Regions from separate parts of the Homo sapiens genome. Here region 1 is linked to region 2. Evidence: fine-mapped expression QTL. A gene starts in region 2. The other region holds a variant in brackets. All regions are shown on one strand. Distances are from middle to middle. Region 1 has its middle 49 kb from the start of SNORD65B. Region 2 holds the start of SFRP1 (secreted frizzled related protein 1).

Region 1 (8,782 bases), 67 kb before region 2:
CCCTTTTCAAGATTTCTCTTTCTCTTTGACTTTCAGCAGTTGAAAATGATGCACTTTGGTGTGGATTTCTTTATATTTATCCTACTTGTGGTTCTTTGAAATTCTTGGACTTGTAGGTTAATGCTTTTCTTCCAATTTGGAAAACTTTGGCACTATTTCTTTAAGTACTTAATCTTCTTTTCCATCTGGGACTCCAATTACAAAATGTTGGACTGCACAATATTTTTCCACATATCTCTTAGACTCTTTTCTTCAAAATTTTTTATATCTACTATTTGAATTGGATAATTTCTACTGATTTATTTGGAAATTCACTGATTTTTCCTCCATCTTCATTCTACTGTTGAATGCATTTAGTACATTTTTTATATTAGTTATTATACTTTTCAGCTCTAGAATTCTTAATGATTTCCATTTATCTGATGACACTCAGTCCACTCATTAGGACTATATTTTCATTTAATCATTCACACATCTTTTAATACTTTAAACATATTTATAAAAATGATTTGAAATCTTTGCCAAATCCAATATCTTGGGCCACTGATAGTCAATTTCTATTGACTACTTTATTTTCCTATTTCTTTGCATACCTGGTAATTTTTGGTCAAAGACTGAGTAGTGCAGAATAAATGTACTAGTGATTATAGATTCTGTTATATTCTTCTGAGAATTGTTTTGTTGTAGTACATAGTTAATTGCCTTGACTCAAACTGCAAACTCTGCTTCCTCTGCAGTGTGCAGTAACTTGTATATCTTCTCAGTTCTTTCAGTTCCGTGTGTGTGTGTGTTTGTGTGTGTGTGTGTGTGTGTGTATGTATGTATGTATTTGTGTCTTCTTGGTGTCTGCATGCTTTGATGGTTAGCCAAGGATTTGTGCAGAGTTTATACTCAGATTTAGGGGCATACACTCTCTACAGCTTCTTTGCTTCTAGAGTTTTCTAAATTCTTGACTCTTCTGTCATTCCAGAGCCCAGTCCTTCAATACTTCAATCCAGTAAGGCTTAAGCTTTTTGTTGCTTACCTGTTTGCTGGTTGGGGATTCCACTGTCAAAAAAGGAGAAAACTCTCAAACTCATCTAATACAGCTCTGTCTTTCAAGGGTAAATGCCTTTCTGGTTTCTGTTTGCTTTTCTTAGGTACCCTGCCCTTCCTCCACATCCATCCATAGTTTTGTCATCATCCAGGGCTTTGGGGTATAGTATGCACTCAGATTTTTGGTCTCACACTTTCTTCAATTTTCTCACTTCCAGGATTTTAACCCTAAATTTCCTCTTCTACCACTCTTGCACTCCTTCCTCTGCCATCTTGAATTGGTAAGGTTGATTTATTTCTTCTGCTATAGCTGTGAGGGTTAGGGAATGTTCTGAGGCAGAAAACAAGCAAACAACTCCCCACCCCACAAAATCAACAACCATAAACTTGCAATTTTTACTGGAAACAGTTACAGTCATTTAAGGGTAGGCTGTTCTCTGACTTCTATCTACTAGTTTCTTCAAATAGTTGGTTATTAAAAAAAGAATTTGTTGGCCAGGTGTGTTGGCTCACACCTGTAATTCCAGCACTTTGGGAGGCCAAGGCAGGTGGATCACTTGAGGTCAGGAATTTGAGACCAGCCTGGCCAATGTGGTGAAATCCCGTCTCCACTAAAAATACAAAAATTAGCCGTGCATAGTGGTGGGTGCCTGTAATCCCAGCTACTGGAGAGGCTGAGGCAGGAGAATTGCTTGAACCTGGGGGGTGGAGGTTGCAGTGAGCCGAGGTCATGCCACTGAACTCCAGCCTGGGTGATAAAGAGTGAGACTCTGTCAAAAAAAAAAAAAAAGAATTTGTCTGCATTTCGTTATTGTCTAGGAAAGGATTCACCAATGACTTCACTCCACTGCTACTGGAAGCAGATTTGAACAGTAGTACTACAGGTTTTGTGATAGTTGTCTTATCTTCTCTATGACTTCAGAAGTGAAATTAGCATCCTCCCTAGATCCTACTCCCTGAGAGCTCCTTCTGATCTTCTACTCTTTCTCTCCTTCAGTCTCTGCTGGGTCCTCATGGAACCCAGTAACTTGATTTTTCATTTGATAAATGTTATTTCTTTACATACAAAAGTTTTACATTTTGATATAATAATTCTTAGTCTTTTAATTTGTCTTTCTTTTGCCTTAATGCTTAGAAATTCCTTTTCTAACCCTGGGTTTGGTAAATATTTACTTATATGTTTATCAATTTGTGGCACAGTTGCCTCCCATTTAATACTTTAATCCATGTGTAACTTACTTGAATGTATGATGTGAGGTAGGAATTAAACTTTGTTTTTATCAATTAGTTAACCAATTTCCCTGGCACTATTTTATTGATTAAAACATCCTCTGGGCTGGGCGCAGTGGCTCACGCCTGTAATCCCAGAACTTTGGGAGACCGAGGTGGGCAGATCATCTGAGGTCAGGAGTTTGAGACCAGCCTGGCCAACATGGTGAAACACTGTCTCTACTAAAAATACAAAATTTAGCTAGGCGCGGTGGCAGGTGCCTGTAATCCCAGCTACTCAGGAGGCTGAGACAGGAGAATCACTTGAACCCGGGAGGTGGAGGGTACAGTGAGTCAAGATCGTGCCACTGCACTCTAGCCTGGGCGACAAAGCCAGACTCTGTCTCAAAAAAAAAAAAAAAATCCTCTTCTCATTAAGATGGAATATTGCATGATAGAGAAATTGCTATTATCTATTCTAGATATTTCCTCCCAGGTGAAGGAACGCCATTGGTATGGTACTTCTGATTTCTCTCCATCCACTTCCTCACTCCACTCCTGAAGAGGTTGAGTGACTTTTTTATTTAGTAAGTTGGGGAAAACAATCAAGCATACTTAGTTTTAGTTGCCTTTCTGGTTGGACTCAAAGTGTCGAAAGGGAACAAGATTTCTTCCCTAAATGCTTTTGGCCCATGCACCTACCATGAGGGTTTCTGGAAGGCATTTTTCTTCTTCACATGGGTCCTGACGAAATTGGGATGATGAAGGCCAGTCTTTTATTACTGATAAAGGTTAAACTGGAGAATGCCCAAAGCTTCTGCTGATGGGCGCTGCGTCTGGCAGATAAACCCACTCCATGAGTGGAAAATGAGACCAGGCAGCCCTCCTGGTGTGCAAGGGGAGCCTGCCCCTGGAATGGGAACAGTGCCTGCTCCCCATGTGCAGCTCCCTCCCAAGTAAGGGAAGAGCAGAGTTAGGATAAGCACATTGCATCTTCCCCCAAAACTTTTAGATCCATGTCACTTGCTCTCTCCAGAGAGGAGTGAGTAAGGGGTGAGAAGAGGCTGGAGAGGTGGCTGCAGTGCAGCCTCCTCCACCTGAAAGGAAATATTATGAGTAGGAAGGAAGCATCCCAAAATATACCTTTGTTTTATTCAATATTTACAAATAGAGGTGCTTTCAGTAACAGATACACACAGATTTATTTCTGAGCTTTCTTTTAGGTTCTTTGGTTTGCTTACCTATTATGGTTCCAGTACCATCCTTTTATTTTATTTATTTTTTATTTTTTTTATTTTGAACCATCCTTTTAGAGTAATAGAGATTTATGATACTTGTTAATATTTGGCAGAGCAAGTCACTTCTTACTAATTTTCTTTTTCAAACATTTTTAGTAATTAGTGATTCTTTATTTTTGGGATGTACCTTAGGATAATTTTGCTATTAAAAAAAAAAATCTTGGCCAGGCGTGGTGGCTCATGCCTGTAATCCCAGCACTTTGGGAGGCTGAGGCGGGCGGATCACTTGAGGTCAGGAGTTTGAGACCAACCTGGCCAACAGGGTGAAACCCTGTCTCTACTAAAAATACAAAAATTAGCTGGGC[G/A]TGGTGGCAGGCGCCTATAGTCCCAGCTACTCAGGAGGCTGAGGCAGGAGAATCGCTTGAACCCGGGAGGCGGAGGTTGCAGTGAGCCAAGATCATGCCACTGCACTCCAGCCTGGGTGACAGAGTGAGACTCCATCTCAAAAAACAAAACAAAACAAAACAAAACACAAAAAACTCAGTAGGTTTCATACTGAATTTTTCAGCTAGGATGCTATTTCTCTTGATATTCAAGATTTTAAAACTTTTCCAATAAATTTTATAGTTTTATTTACAGATAACCTGAATGTTTCTTTTATTTAAGAAAAGAATTGAGAGGGAATTTTTTTTTATTATGACCACAATTACAGAATATAACTGGAGCTTTTGAGTGTTCCTAAAGGGAGTCATTTGTACACAGAAGATTAGTTTCAGGATGTTAACATTAGTACTTGACTTATTAAAATTATAAATTAAAAATAGATTTTTCTTAATCTTTTAAGTTCAAGTTACAAACCTATTCATAAAATTGGTAAAATACATGCAAAAATTTTAAATTTTCCTTTGATTAAAGTTGAATTAATGCAAGGTGAATAGAACATATCCCCTTAAACAATCAGTTCTGTTTACAACTCAGTTAATTAAATTCCTTCAATCATTAAAACTGTATTTATAAGTTTAGCATAATTGCTTTTCTTTTCAGCACTTCAAATGCCCCTAACAAGAATAGCCTTCCCAAGTTCTTGAACAATTCTATTAAGTGTGATAAAAACAAATTGATAAATATGACAAATCTTTAAAAAAATTCAGTGTAGTTTAAAAAATTAGCTAAAGTCTCATACCTTTCAACTTGCAATGATAAAATCAATTACTCAAATGCATGTTGTAAAATGGAATCACAGCTCTAATCTTTATGATTATCTTATGTCCCCCCAAAATCTCTACAGTCACTTTCTTTCTTTCTTTCTTTTTTCTGGAGACAAGATCGGGCTCTATTGCCCATGCTGGGGTGCAGTGCTGCAGTCTCGGCTCACTGCAACCTCTGCCTCCCAGGCTCAGGCAAACTTCCTGCCTCAGCCTCCCTACCTGGGGCCACAGGTGTACACCACCATACCCAGCTAATTTTTGTATTTTTTTATAGAGATGTGGGGGGTCTCTCTATGTTGCCCAGATTGGTCTCAAACTCCTAGGCTTAAGTGACCTGGCCTCCTCAGCCTCCCAAAGTGCTGGGATTATGGGCCTGAGCCACCGTGCCCAGCCCTCTTTACAGTCACTTTAGATACCAAATATACACACGTTGTTCCAATGATTATCCAAACAGATTCCTGAATGTAACACAGAAGTATTAATATATATGTAGTTTGATTTATTTCTTCATCTTTGTATCTAATTCAAAAATGTCCTAGGGTTAAAAGACACCCATGAGGAAAACAATTTTACCATCCCAAGCCAATAAGAGTTATTACCCCAATCAAATTGGGGGAGAGATTTCAGAAAAAAAATTATGGGCCAGAGATTTTGGGTCCTACACTAGATCTGACCCTCCTGGAGCCGCTCAGCGAAACATTGACTTAGTTTTTAATAGTCATTAAAAACAGGGATCCCAAGTCCTTATCTTTTGGAAAGGATTTATCTCTTTTGAGTTTAAAATATACCATTACTTAACCCTCTGGCCTGATATGAAATCTGTAGCCTCCTGCCCAGTTTACTTCACAGCATGTTTAAATCTATTTCCTGCCTGATTCTATTTTGAATTATTGGCAGATCTTTCTGTATGTCCTGCCACAGTTTGATAGCAGCTTAATGATACCCAGACTGAAGTGATTCTTGTGAAAATACAGATTATACAAACATCCATTTATCCAACACCCAGCTTAATCGGATCATAACATTTTATTATGTTTACTTCAGGTTTTAAAAAGCATTAAAACCACTTCTGATAGATTTGAAGCCTCCAGTGTATTCTTCTGTGATTTCATTTTCTCCTTTCCCAGATGAACACTGAATTTTGTGTTCATAACTTCCAAGCATCTTTTGATTCTATCATAACATACAAATGTGCCAATAATATGTATTGTTTTGCATGTTCTCAAATTTTCTGTACATATTATCTTGTAGTTATATTGCCACTTCCTTTCTTGGTAATCAGCATGCTTTTGAGAATTACTAATGTTGATACATGTAGCTCCAGTTAATTTGACTGCTGTATAATAGACATGAATTCAATAAATATGTCATAATTTATTTTTCCACTCATTTGGTGGATGGATTTTTTTCCCCAGTGTTTTGCTGTGATAAACATTGTTGCAATTAACATTTTTGTACATGTTTCTGTGTACAATATGTGTGTGAGAGTTTTCGTAGAATATATATTTAATAGTAGAAATTCTGGGTTGAAGACCTACATTTTTACCCTTACTATTTCCAAATTGCTTTCTCATGCTAAGTGAGAGTTCCGATCGCCCCCTAATTCTTACCAACACTTGTTTTCAAACTTTTGCAATATGATGAACAAGAGATCGTTTCTCCCTCTTGTAGTTGAGAATTCTGGGGTTACTGGTGAGATTGAGCATTTCTTTTCTGTCTATTGATCATTTCCCTTTCCTCTTCTGTATATTGCCTGCTCATGTGTTTTAGCCATTTCTCTACTGTCATTTTTTCCTTAAATTGAAAGCCATGTATAAATGCTAATTTTAACCCTTTATAGGTTTATGCATAAAAGATATTAAATTTTAACTTCTACTGAGGTCAAATCTTTTCCTTATGATTTGTTTTCTACAAAGTCATAGAGATTTTCTATATTGCCTTCTAAAAACGTTACTTTTCACATGTAGGCCTTAATTTACTTGGAAATGATTTTTTTTTTTTTGGTAGGGAATTAAGTGGTTTCTCTTTTCCAGATTGGTGTCACCCTTTGTTAAATGATTATGTTTTCCACGCATGTATAATTCCACCTCTGTCATATATCAAGTTTTCATGTATGCATGGGTCTGTTTTCAGACTCATGAGACAGAATGTGTGTGTGTTGTGTGTATGTGTGTGTGTGTAGCTGTGTGTCTGTGTGTAATTCCTAAGGCAAAATTACTCTATTTAAATCATGGCTTTAAATTGATTTATTTGTGATTCTTTTATTTTGAGATGGAGTTTTGCTCCTGTTGCCCAGGCTGGAGTGCAGTGGTGGCACGGTCTCGGCTTACTGCAACCTGTGCCTACTGGATTCAAGCCATTCTCCTGCCTCATGCCCAGGTGGCACCTGCCACCATGCCCAGCTAATTGTTATATTTTTAGTAGAGATGGAGTTTCACCATGTTGGCCAGGCTGGTAAACCCCCGATCTCAGGTGATCCATCCACCTCAGCCTCCCAAAGTTGGGATTACAGGCGTTAGCCACCATGCCTGGCCTTTTTGTGATTCTTAGCTCTTCATATGAATTCTAGATCTACTTATCAAATTCATAAAAAATTGTGTTAACATTTTGATCGGAGTTGTATTGAATTTATAAGATTTTATTTGGGTTGAATTAGTGTCTTAATAATATTCTTTTTATCCATGGACTTTGTACTTATTTCTTTATTAATGTGTTTTATTCATTATGTATATTATGAATACTTTGTGATTTTTCCAACAAATGTGTCTTAAACATTTTTGTTACATTTATACATAGATTCTTTATAGTTTTCCTTGCTATTATAAATGGAATTATTTTTCTATCATATTCTATCATAATCTCTAATTGGTAATTGCCAGTGGAGATGTAAATTATTAATTTTTAAATGTTGCTAATATCACTTATCAGTTATAATAGTTTGTAGAATGCTTAGGTTTGTTCTCTATGTTGAAAATCACACCACCTGGGGATAAGGACAGTTTTAGGTCATCTTTTTCTATTATTATTTGCTTTATTCTTCTATCTTACGGTATTAGCCGGAACCCACTGTTTAATGTTGAACATAAGCAGTGATGGTAGGTGTCTTTATTTCATTTTTTACTGTATTGTTAATGATTCTCAAGTTATACTGTTAATTATGATGTTTAATAGATTTTGTATCATGTTTAATAATATAGGTTATAAGATTAAGGGTGTCATCTCCTATTCCCAATTTCCTAAACTTAAAAAATTTTTATTTTATTTATTTATTTATTTATGTATTTATTTATTTATTTATTTATTCATCTATTTTTTAGGGACAAGGTCTTGCTCTGTTGCCCAGGCTGGAGCACAGTGGTGTTCATTGCAGCCTTAACTCCTGGGGTCAAGGGATCCTCCTGCCTCGGCCTCCGAAGTAGCAGGGACTCCAGGCCACCACACCTGGCTAATTAAAAAAAATTTTTTTTTGTAGAGATGGGTCTCTCTATGTTGTCCAGGCTGGTCTCAAACTTCTGGCCTCGAGTGAGGCTTCCAACTCAGCCTCCCAAAGCACTAGGATTATAGGTGTGAGCCACTGAGCCTGGCCGTATTTTTTTTTTTAATGTGAACAGGTATTGACTTTTATCAAATGTCTTTTCAGCATCCATTGGAATTATCAAGAATGACTTGAATATTTTGGAAGACTTACCCTTAAAACACTCTGGTCTTGTGTCTCTTGGAGGGAAAGGCTTTGATTAGGAATTGAATTTCTTTAGGCTTTTTGTTTGTTTGTTTATTGAGGCTTTCTATTTCTTCTTAAGCCAATTTTGATAATTCATAATTTATCTAATTTATCTACATTTTCAAATCTACTAGCATTTAATTCATATTCTTATCTAAACATTTTTTAAAACTCTACTCTTTGGAGATCATGTCTCTCTTTTTGCTTTAAATATGTTGATTTGTGCCTTTTATTCTTGATCAGTCTTACTGCAGGTTTATCCTACTATGTTTATAAAGCCCATCTTTTAGTATTATTAATACACAGTATAATTTTTTGTGTTGTATTTAATTAATTTTGGCTCTTAACTTTATTATTTTCCTGCTTCCATT
Region 2 (8,782 bases):
AGGCACAGAGTGGGTGAATCTGACTAGGGATGGAGGAGGTCAGGCCTGGCTTCCTGGAGGAGACAACATTGTTAGGATAAGTGGGTGGATTTGCCAGATAAAATATATGATGCCCAGTAAACTGAATTTCAGTTCAACAATGAATAATTTATAGTATATGTATGTCTCAGGTAATATTTGAGACACACTTAATAAGTTTTTTCTTGTTGATCTGGAATTCAAATTTTACTGGATGTTCTATTTTTTAATATTTAAATTTAATTTTTATTTTTAAAGACAGGGTGCCATTCTGTCACCCAAGCTGGAGTGCAGTGGTATGATCATAGCTCACTGCAGCCTCCAACTCCTGGGCTCAAGCGATCCTCCTGCCTCAGCCTCCTAAGTAGCTGGGACTACCGGCACGTACCACTGTGCCTGTAGCTAATTCTTAATCAGCTAATTCTTAAAATTCTTAAAATTGTGCCTAATCAGATAATTCTTAAAAATTATTATTATGTGTAGAAACAGGGTCTTGCTATGTTGCCCGGGCTGGTCTCAAACTCCTGGCCTCAAGCAATCCTCCTGCCTTACTTTCCCTAAGTGCTGGGATTACAGGTATGAGCCACTGTGCCTGGCCATGGGTGTCCTGTATTTTTATTTGTAAATCTGGAAACCCTATGAGTAGTAGTTTGTACAAAAGTAGTGAAAGGCATTACAGATAGAGAAAACAGCATGTGCACACAGCATGAGCCCAGGATGAGAGGCAAGCGAGAAGCCATTGGGTGGGAAAGTGCAAGTACTTCTGGAGACTGGAAACTAGGCTGGTGGGGGGTGCTGGGGAGGTGAAGCTGGAGAGGTCATGGGGGTCAGGGCTGAGTCTTGATACTATCCTGGAGGTTGGGCTTTTTCCTGTGGACAAAGAGTGTGTGAGAATTTTAATCAGAGAAATAGTCCATTTGATATTTTTATTTCTATTTAAAAAGTCATCTTAAAATATGCCTTTTATTTTTAGTTCTCTTCTTTCTAAGAGGTGGTATACAAGTCTTCATTTATTTATATAAAAATTATATTTATAGGCATGAATATATTTATAATATAAATTATAAATTAATTAATGTAGTAATAAATGAACAAAAATTGTCAAGCCCAGTTTGACAGAACCTCGCCTGGAGAGTGGGCAGGTGTGACTGTCTGAGTGGAGGGGCGGGGACGGTGACCTTGGCCTCCCAGTTTGGGGCTCCGCTGAGGGTGTCTTCCTGGCTGCTTACGATAGGAACTGATCCTAGGATGGCCTAGTAAGAAATTACAGGGAGCAGAGTTTCCCTTCAAGGAAGGAAGAACATTCTAGTGGATTGTCTGAACTTGGTGACTATATCCCAAACAAATAAAAGGGATGCTCCGTTAGCTTCTGTCAAGAATGGTGCAGAGGACTGGGTGCGGTGGCTCACCCCTGTAATCCCAACACTCTGGGAGGCTGAGACAGGAGGATTGCTTGGGGCTAGGAGTTCAAAACCAGCCTGGATAACATAGCAAAATCCCATTGCTCAAAAAAAAAAAAAAAAAAAAAAAAAAAAAAAAGCTAGGTGTGGTGGCCTGCATCTGGAGTCCCAGCTACTTGGGAGGCTGAGGTGGCAGGATTGCCTGAGCCCAGGAGGTCAAGGCTGCAGTGAGCCAAGGTCCTGCCACTGCGCTCCAGCCTGGGGAACAGAGTGAGACTCTGTATCAAAAAAAAAAAAAAAAAAAAGATGAAGAGGTAGGGGTGCTTACTCTAAGAAGAGATGAAGAGATGGGGCTGGAATTTGCCTTCAACTCCAAATTTTTAAGATGCTTCCCAGACATTCCCAGACTTCAGTTAGCAGGTCAGGCCAGTTCTTTAAAGAGTTAGAAAGGATCAGGATTACACATCTACAGAGGCAGAATGCAGAAGAAGCTTGTCCAAGTAAGAGCATGACCAGGTTTCAAGGCATCTGACAACGAATACCACTTTGGCCCCTTCAGACTTGCCTGGAAGTCTAAGGATGTGCCTCGAGTGACCCTACATGCTGAGAATTCACACTTCTGAGCTAGCAGGGCAGCCGGGCAGGCATTAATAGCTCTGTTTCACAGATGAGAACACTAAGACCAGAGAGAGGAAGTGCGATTCCCATGAGTCGCCCAGCCAGTTAGGAGCAGAGCTGAGGCTGTAGCCTGTGTCCACTGACTGTGGGCCAGCATGCTTTCCTTGGCATTGCCCCTGACCCACAGATACCCAGCTTCAGGCGGGAGCTCCCTCCCTAGTGCTGCTGGCTGAGGGAGAGCGAGCTGAATGTATCTTTGGAGAGGATGGCAGACATCACTGATGATATGATAGTGGAACACAATGGGAGCTGTGGCTGGGAAGGCTCCCCTCCCAGTTTTTCCAGGAGAAGCCAGGAAAAAGCTCTGCGTGTGGGAAGAGGCCACCTGGGAGGCACCTGGGGGGGCCCTCTGTGACCCTCTGTGGAGGCTGAAGAACTGAGAATGCCTCCTGAAGCTGGTGTTTTGAAGCAACAGAGGACGAACTTTCAGGCTTCATGCATGGGCATCTAGCAGTGTGGGAAAAGCAGAACTTCTGGGAAATGAGAAACATAAGTTAAAGCTGCATTTTGCCTCTGTTTATTTAAGCCATTCAAAAAGGAGGGAGGATATGTCTCCTGGCCCACAGTTCTCATACTCAGGAACCCTCATATCTGGGAGCTCTGTCATGTCAGTTGCATGTTTAAAGGGCCTTTGTTCTAGAACCTTCTGCTGTACACACAGGAGTGCGTGCACACACAAACACACACACACTTGCCATTAGGAAAAGGGGGACTGGATTTTGAAGTGCAAAGAGTTGACAATAAGTAAAAGGACAAAAGTACTGTATGTACCTCTGCAATACAAAGTCTTCAGGCTGTTCTGCCTGGTGCTGTTATGCAGCATGTGAATTTCCCGAGAGGACGGGGGGCGGGTGGTCCCTCTCCCACATCCCAGGAATGGATTAAAGTCTCTCGGTGGGACTGAGGTCTTAGGGTCCTTCCTTTCCAGCTGGGTCTGGGAGGAGTCAGGAGTGCACTGGATTTAGGATTTGGGGTCTTCTCCCATCACTCCCTGTTCCACGGAGAGACAACTGTGTTCCCAGCAGGGGTCAGTAAAGCAGTAGGACCACTAGGGGTGAGTGGGGGAGGTGGTGACTGGAGGTGATCAAAGTCTACTCGGAGTGACCAGACATAGGCGAGGTCTTCCCCTGAATGGATTTGTGAGATTTACTCCTGACTTGGGACTTCCAGGGCAGTCACCTGGACGAATTTCCAGCATTTAACCGTGGACAGACACAAGTCCTCCTGCCATTCGGGAAAACTGAAAACGTGAGTGAGCGGTCAGCTAAGCCTGGGTTCAGAGGTGAGAGGATGTTATCTGCAAACATCCATCTTTGCAGTGAGCAAACAGACGCATTTGGCTTGAGGTGGAGGGCCTGGCCCTAGGAGACAAAAAGACCCCCTACCAAACAGCATTTTTCTCTAAATGCCCCTTGAATTGAGACACAGTTGCCGGGTCTCCTGCGGTCTTATTCTCTGTGAGGAATGTCTTCCTCAGCTCCACAGGCCGGCCTCACCAATTGTCTTGGGATTAACCCTTGGCCATCCCGATCTTGCTCTCTCTTCTCTGTGTTTTCCTTCCAGCCTCCATGTCACCTTTTGAGTGTCAAGGCATCTTCCATTGGCCACGAAATGACAGAGAAGTCATCCATCTGCAGAAGCCTCCTGTGTGCACCGTGGAATCACCGTGTCTGTACGGGCACGAATGCTTTAAGAAAACAGCCCTGCTTCTTCACAAACTCTAGTCATTTCACTTGGAATCTGTCCATCAAGAAATTAGGTTTGCAGAGTCCAAAGCAAGCTCCCTAGAGCTTTACAAACAAGCTGGCGGGCAAGGCAGCGCGCCCTATAGTGTCTCTGTGGAGCGCTAAGATCTGTGACCCCTTTGCCACATGGGGTGTGCGCTCAGACTGGGCTATGAATATATCAGCCTCTCTCCACCCGCACTTAGGGACAGAAGATATGGAGACTCCAGGAACTTCATGAACTATTTGCTGTGGTCTTCTGTCCCGGGATAGTCCGGGTCTCACTCCCAGCTCTCCAGAGCTTAACCCTCCCTCTCAGGGGAATGTTTGAAACCTACGAAGAATTCTCAGGAATTCGAGGTAGAAGGTGGCAGAGAGACTTCTGTTCCTGGGGGCCGAGCTGTTGTGCTGATACCGTCCTCTTGGCGTCTGCCCTAGTGGGGACCCTTGATTTTAACTTGAAGTTCCTGGACTGGGTCTAACCTTAGCATGTGTGCCTGAGTGATGGACTTGGTATTTACACCAGCCACGCTGATAAGTGCACATGTGTTTTTAATGTTTTGGCTTTCCACACCACAAACACACAGATGTGCTGTCGCCCGGGCTAGGACTTGAGTAGGGTTTTTCTATTTAAATATATATTATATATTTAAAAAAGTGTCCTCCCAGAGCTAATACCGTTGCTAGCAGCTCTTCCTGCCGCCACACCGGGCAAAGTCCACCCACTGCCCCAGTGTTGAGGGCCACCATGGGCGGCCCCACCTGGAGAGGTGCTGCTCACAGCAAACAGCTCCAACTGCGCCTTCGCCTCGCCTTCCAGGGAGCCCAGCCAGGCCCACTGGGTATTTACAAGCAGACCTCCCTCGCTTCAGCCTTCCTGAACCCCTGTTAGTTGGGAAACCACCTGTCTGCACCGCAGCTAGAGAACCGAGGAGAGGAGCCGCTAGTCTAAAGGGCTGTTGGTTGAAATTAGGAAGCAGTGTAAAGAAAAAGAAAAAAAAAGTTTGGGAGGCCAAGGCAGGAGCATCACCTGAGGTCAGGAGTTCGAGACCAGCCTGGCTAACATGGTGAAACCCCGTCTCTACTAAAAATACAAAAAATTAGCGGGGGCATGGTGGCACGCGGCTGTAATCCCAGCTACTCGGGAGGCTGAGGCAGGAGAATCGCTTGAACCCGGGAGGCGGAGGTTGCAGTCAGCGGAGATAGCGCCATTGCACTCCAGCTTAGGCAACAAGAGCGAAACTGTCTCAAAAAAAAAAAGTCTTCATAATTTCATGGGTTTGCAAGTATGATCCAGGCTCCCCGCTTCTCTGCAAGCCAATGCGAGTTAATTACAGCGTCCGCCCTGGTCTCTCTCCACCCCACGCCGTGATCCATTCCCCTTCTTTTTCTCCCCTTGTCTCTTTCCTCCTCCCCCTTTTATTTATGTATTTTTGGTTTTGTTTTTTAAGGGGTGTTGAGCCGCGTCTGGTTCTAGTAAACCGAACCCGCTCGCGAGGGAGGCGATTGGCTCCCGCGCCGGTGACGGACGTGGTAACGAGTGCGGCTCGCCCCGCCGGGAGCTGATTGGCTGCGCGGGGCGGCTCCGAGGGCTCGGCCGTAGGAGCCCCGCGCACTCCAGCCCTGCAGCCTCCGGAGTCAGTGCCGCGCGCCCGCCGCCCCGCGCCTTCCTGCTCGCCGCACCTCCGGGAGCCGGGGCGCACCCAGCCCGCAGCGCCGCCTCCCCGCCCGCGCCGCCTCCGACCGCAGGCCGAGGGCCGCCACTGGCCGGGGGGACCGGGCAGCAGCTTGCGGCCGCGGAGCCGGGCAACGCTGGGGACTGCGCCTTTTGTCCCCGGAGGTCCCTGGAAGTTTGCGGCAGGACGCGCGCGGGGAGGCGGCGGAGGCAGCCCCGACGTCGCGGAGAACAGGGCGCAGAGCCGGCATGGGCATCGGGCGCAGCGAGGGGGGCCGCCGCGGGGCAGCCCTGGGCGTGCTGCTGGCGCTGGGCGCGGCGCTTCTGGCCGTGGGCTCGGCCAGCGAGTACGACTACGTGAGCTTCCAGTCGGACATCGGCCCGTACCAGAGCGGGCGCTTCTACACCAAGCCACCTCAGTGCGTGGACATCCCCGCGGACCTGCGGCTGTGCCACAACGTGGGCTACAAGAAGATGGTGCTGCCCAACCTGCTGGAGCACGAGACCATGGCGGAGGTGAAGCAGCAGGCCAGCAGCTGGGTGCCCCTGCTCAACAAGAACTGCCACGCCGGCACCCAGGTCTTCCTCTGCTCGCTCTTCGCGCCCGTCTGCCTGGACCGGCCCATCTACCCGTGTCGCTGGCTCTGCGAGGCCGTGCGCGACTCGTGCGAGCCGGTCATGCAGTTCTTCGGCTTCTACTGGCCCGAGATGCTTAAGTGTGACAAGTTCCCCGAGGGGGACGTCTGCATCGCCATGACGCCGCCCAATGCCACCGAAGCCTCCAAGCCCCAAGGTAAGGCTGCCTCCTCCCACGTGCGCGAGCCGCCCCCTCCATCCCCCGGCCGGAGCTGCAGGAGAACCCGCGCCACCCTACGCCCGCCCGCCGCTGGGTCCCGGTGCTGGGGACTGAGGGCCCGAGGTTGCTCGCATGCTGTGCACGTGATTCCTAAGCGCGTCTGGTCTGTCCCAGGTATCGCTCAGCGCCCCTCGCGACCCAGGTGCACGGCGGGGCTGGCCCGGGAGCGGCAGCTCTGCGCCTTGGCCTCGCAGGGACTCGCTGTGGTCCCCGGAGCCGCTCTTCCTGGGATCCAACTTCGCCTTTCCCATACCTGAAACAAAGCCTTGCGCTTTAAATAACAGGGGAGCTTCCCTCTCCTCTAGGAGGACTCCGAGTCCCTATCGAAGTTTTTAACCTCTGAGACGGGAGGAAAAAACAAAAACCCAAAGCGTAGAAAGTTCAGAAAGGCCGAGAGAATGCTTGGAGCAGCTTTTGTTTATTTTCATAGGTTCGACAAAGATTTAAAAAATAAAACCAAGCCCTTTCCTTCACTGGTCATTCAGTCAAGTAGCCTTGGGATTGCTGCAAAACTGGCTGAGAAAGTTTAGGAACCGTGGGGACTTCTGTTTCTCCACCCCTTCCAGGTACCAGCTCTGCCCTCGGAGGGCTGGGGGTGGAAAGTCTTTTCTCCCTCCCTCTAGCGTACCCCCTGCTTTTCTCATTTACACAAATCCTCAGCTCATTAGAAAGATAAAAATGTAATTAGCTCATTGTTCATCTCCTCCCGGGGAGAGCAGCTCTGCAAAATGCAGACTTTCCTAACAGCCTGAGGGACCGGCCCGAGGTTCCTCTCAAAACCCCCTTATGTTTAAAGAGCAATTCTTGAGGGGGAAGAAAAAAAAATCCTGGGAAGTCAAATAAAATGAAATAGATATAAAGATAAAATATACACATCACAGACCTGACTTCTATAGAAGTAAATTCAACCCAGAATTCTTTAGAAGCGAAGTTTAGGCTCTGAGGTGTGGAGAGGGTCAGGGATTGGGGAGCTGTACCCCAGCTGCGCTTAGCACAGACGCAGGCTTCCTGAGGGCTTTTTGAGGAGGGCCTTTAGGGTGGGGGAGAAAGACTGCCTACACTTAGCTCACCTTAAAGTGTCTTTAACCTCTGTTATTGATGCTAAAAGAGGGGAGTGCAGTCACCTGGCTCCTCAGAGTGAGGATTTGGGCAGGTGGGGGAAAGGGATACCCCAAATTTTAGATGCTTTTGCTTATTCTAGGGAGGGTGGAGATGGGTCCACAGTGACTGTCGTTGGATGGCTGGATGGGAACGGCACTGATTGCCCGCAGTGGCCAGGTCTGGGCACCGCTGCTCTCAGAGTCAACTCTGGTGTTGGGAGTGGAGTGAGGGTAGCGGATGCATCTGCACTTTGTGAGCGAGAACTGAGCAGTTACCTGGAGCAAACAAAGCGCCTTGTGTTCTGTTGGCTTGCACCCATCCCCTGCAGCCTGCGGGAATTTCCTTCTCCCCTTCCTCAGCCAGCGGGGATTAGCCCAGCCCTGCCCTGTGAGGCTGTGCCCAGCCCTGACCTGGAGTCCATTCCCAATGGCTTCCGATGGTCTCTTTCTGGGACCGTCTGCAGACATGAGTGGACACCTTAGGGGGCTCGGCTGCGGAAAAGGTGCTGCAGTCCACAGGGAACATGGGGGGATTGGACGGGTTGCCTGAAGAAGAGAGGAAAGAATCCCTCACCCCAGCCCCCAAAAGGCTGTGATGGGATGGGGAAACCCCATAATCGCTGTCTTCCGGACACCTTTTGCCCCTTGGCTGCAGTTCCACTGGTCGGCGCCCTTCTCAGCCTGGCTTGGAACCGTCCTCACTCACCTCCACTCCTCCCAGCAGCGCTCAGGTAGTCACCCTCCCAAGACAGGTCTTTGAGGAGCAAAGAGAAAAGTGGGGAGAGGGCCGGTCGGGAGTGGGGCTTGGGACTGGTTTTCCCCTCAGTGGTTTTGGTGGGGGGCTCTGCCCTGAGATGGCACACCACCCTCCCCAGGACTGCAATCCCTGGTGTAAGGGAGCCCCACGTGATTTCCTGCGAGGTCCCTGTGGAGGGGAGGGTGGGGCGTGTGTGTGTGTGTGTGTGTGTGTGTAGGTGTGTAGAGGGCAGGTCAAGACAAACCAGACTACTGATCCTCATAACCTTATGGCTTGTGGCTGTGGGGTCGTAACTGGCACTTTCCAATGAGAATAAGTATGCATGCACTACTCTTTTATTCGTTTATTCTTTATGCTTTTATTCTTTAAAATTAAAATGCATTTTCAAAGCAGTGTCATATCTTTGCATACTGGTTTCTGTTCACACACTTGGGCAAATTCAGTTTTGGATTATTGGCCAGCTGTCTGTGGTCATGTGTTATTAAGGAGAAACCTGATAATGAGAAATGACTTGACATTTTTCCCCTGCAAAGGCTGATACCCAAGCCATAGAAGCTCCTGTTAGGGAAGAGGC

What was found. PIP is the estimated chance that this variant, and not a neighbour inherited with it, causes the effect.
Region 1: its variant is fine-mapped to the expression of SFRP1 in prefrontal cortex (ROSMAP, PIP 0.95).

Annotation. Positions count from the first base shown.
Region 1 is chr8:41,373,398-41,382,179 of GRCh38, reverse strand. No RefSeq gene overlaps it. Among named protein-coding and RNA genes, the nearest start is that of SNORD65B, 49 kb to the left of the region's middle. The variant G/A (reference allele first, on the strand shown) is at 3,848.
Region 2 is chr8:41,306,122-41,314,903 of GRCh38, reverse strand. It overlaps SFRP1 (secreted frizzled related protein 1), which reads left to right and starts at 5,431. Exons shown (of 3, transcript NM_003012.5): 1 at 5,431-6,288. The coding sequence starts at 5,745. RefSeq lists enhancers at 3,264-3,791, 5,711-6,481, 6,482-7,253.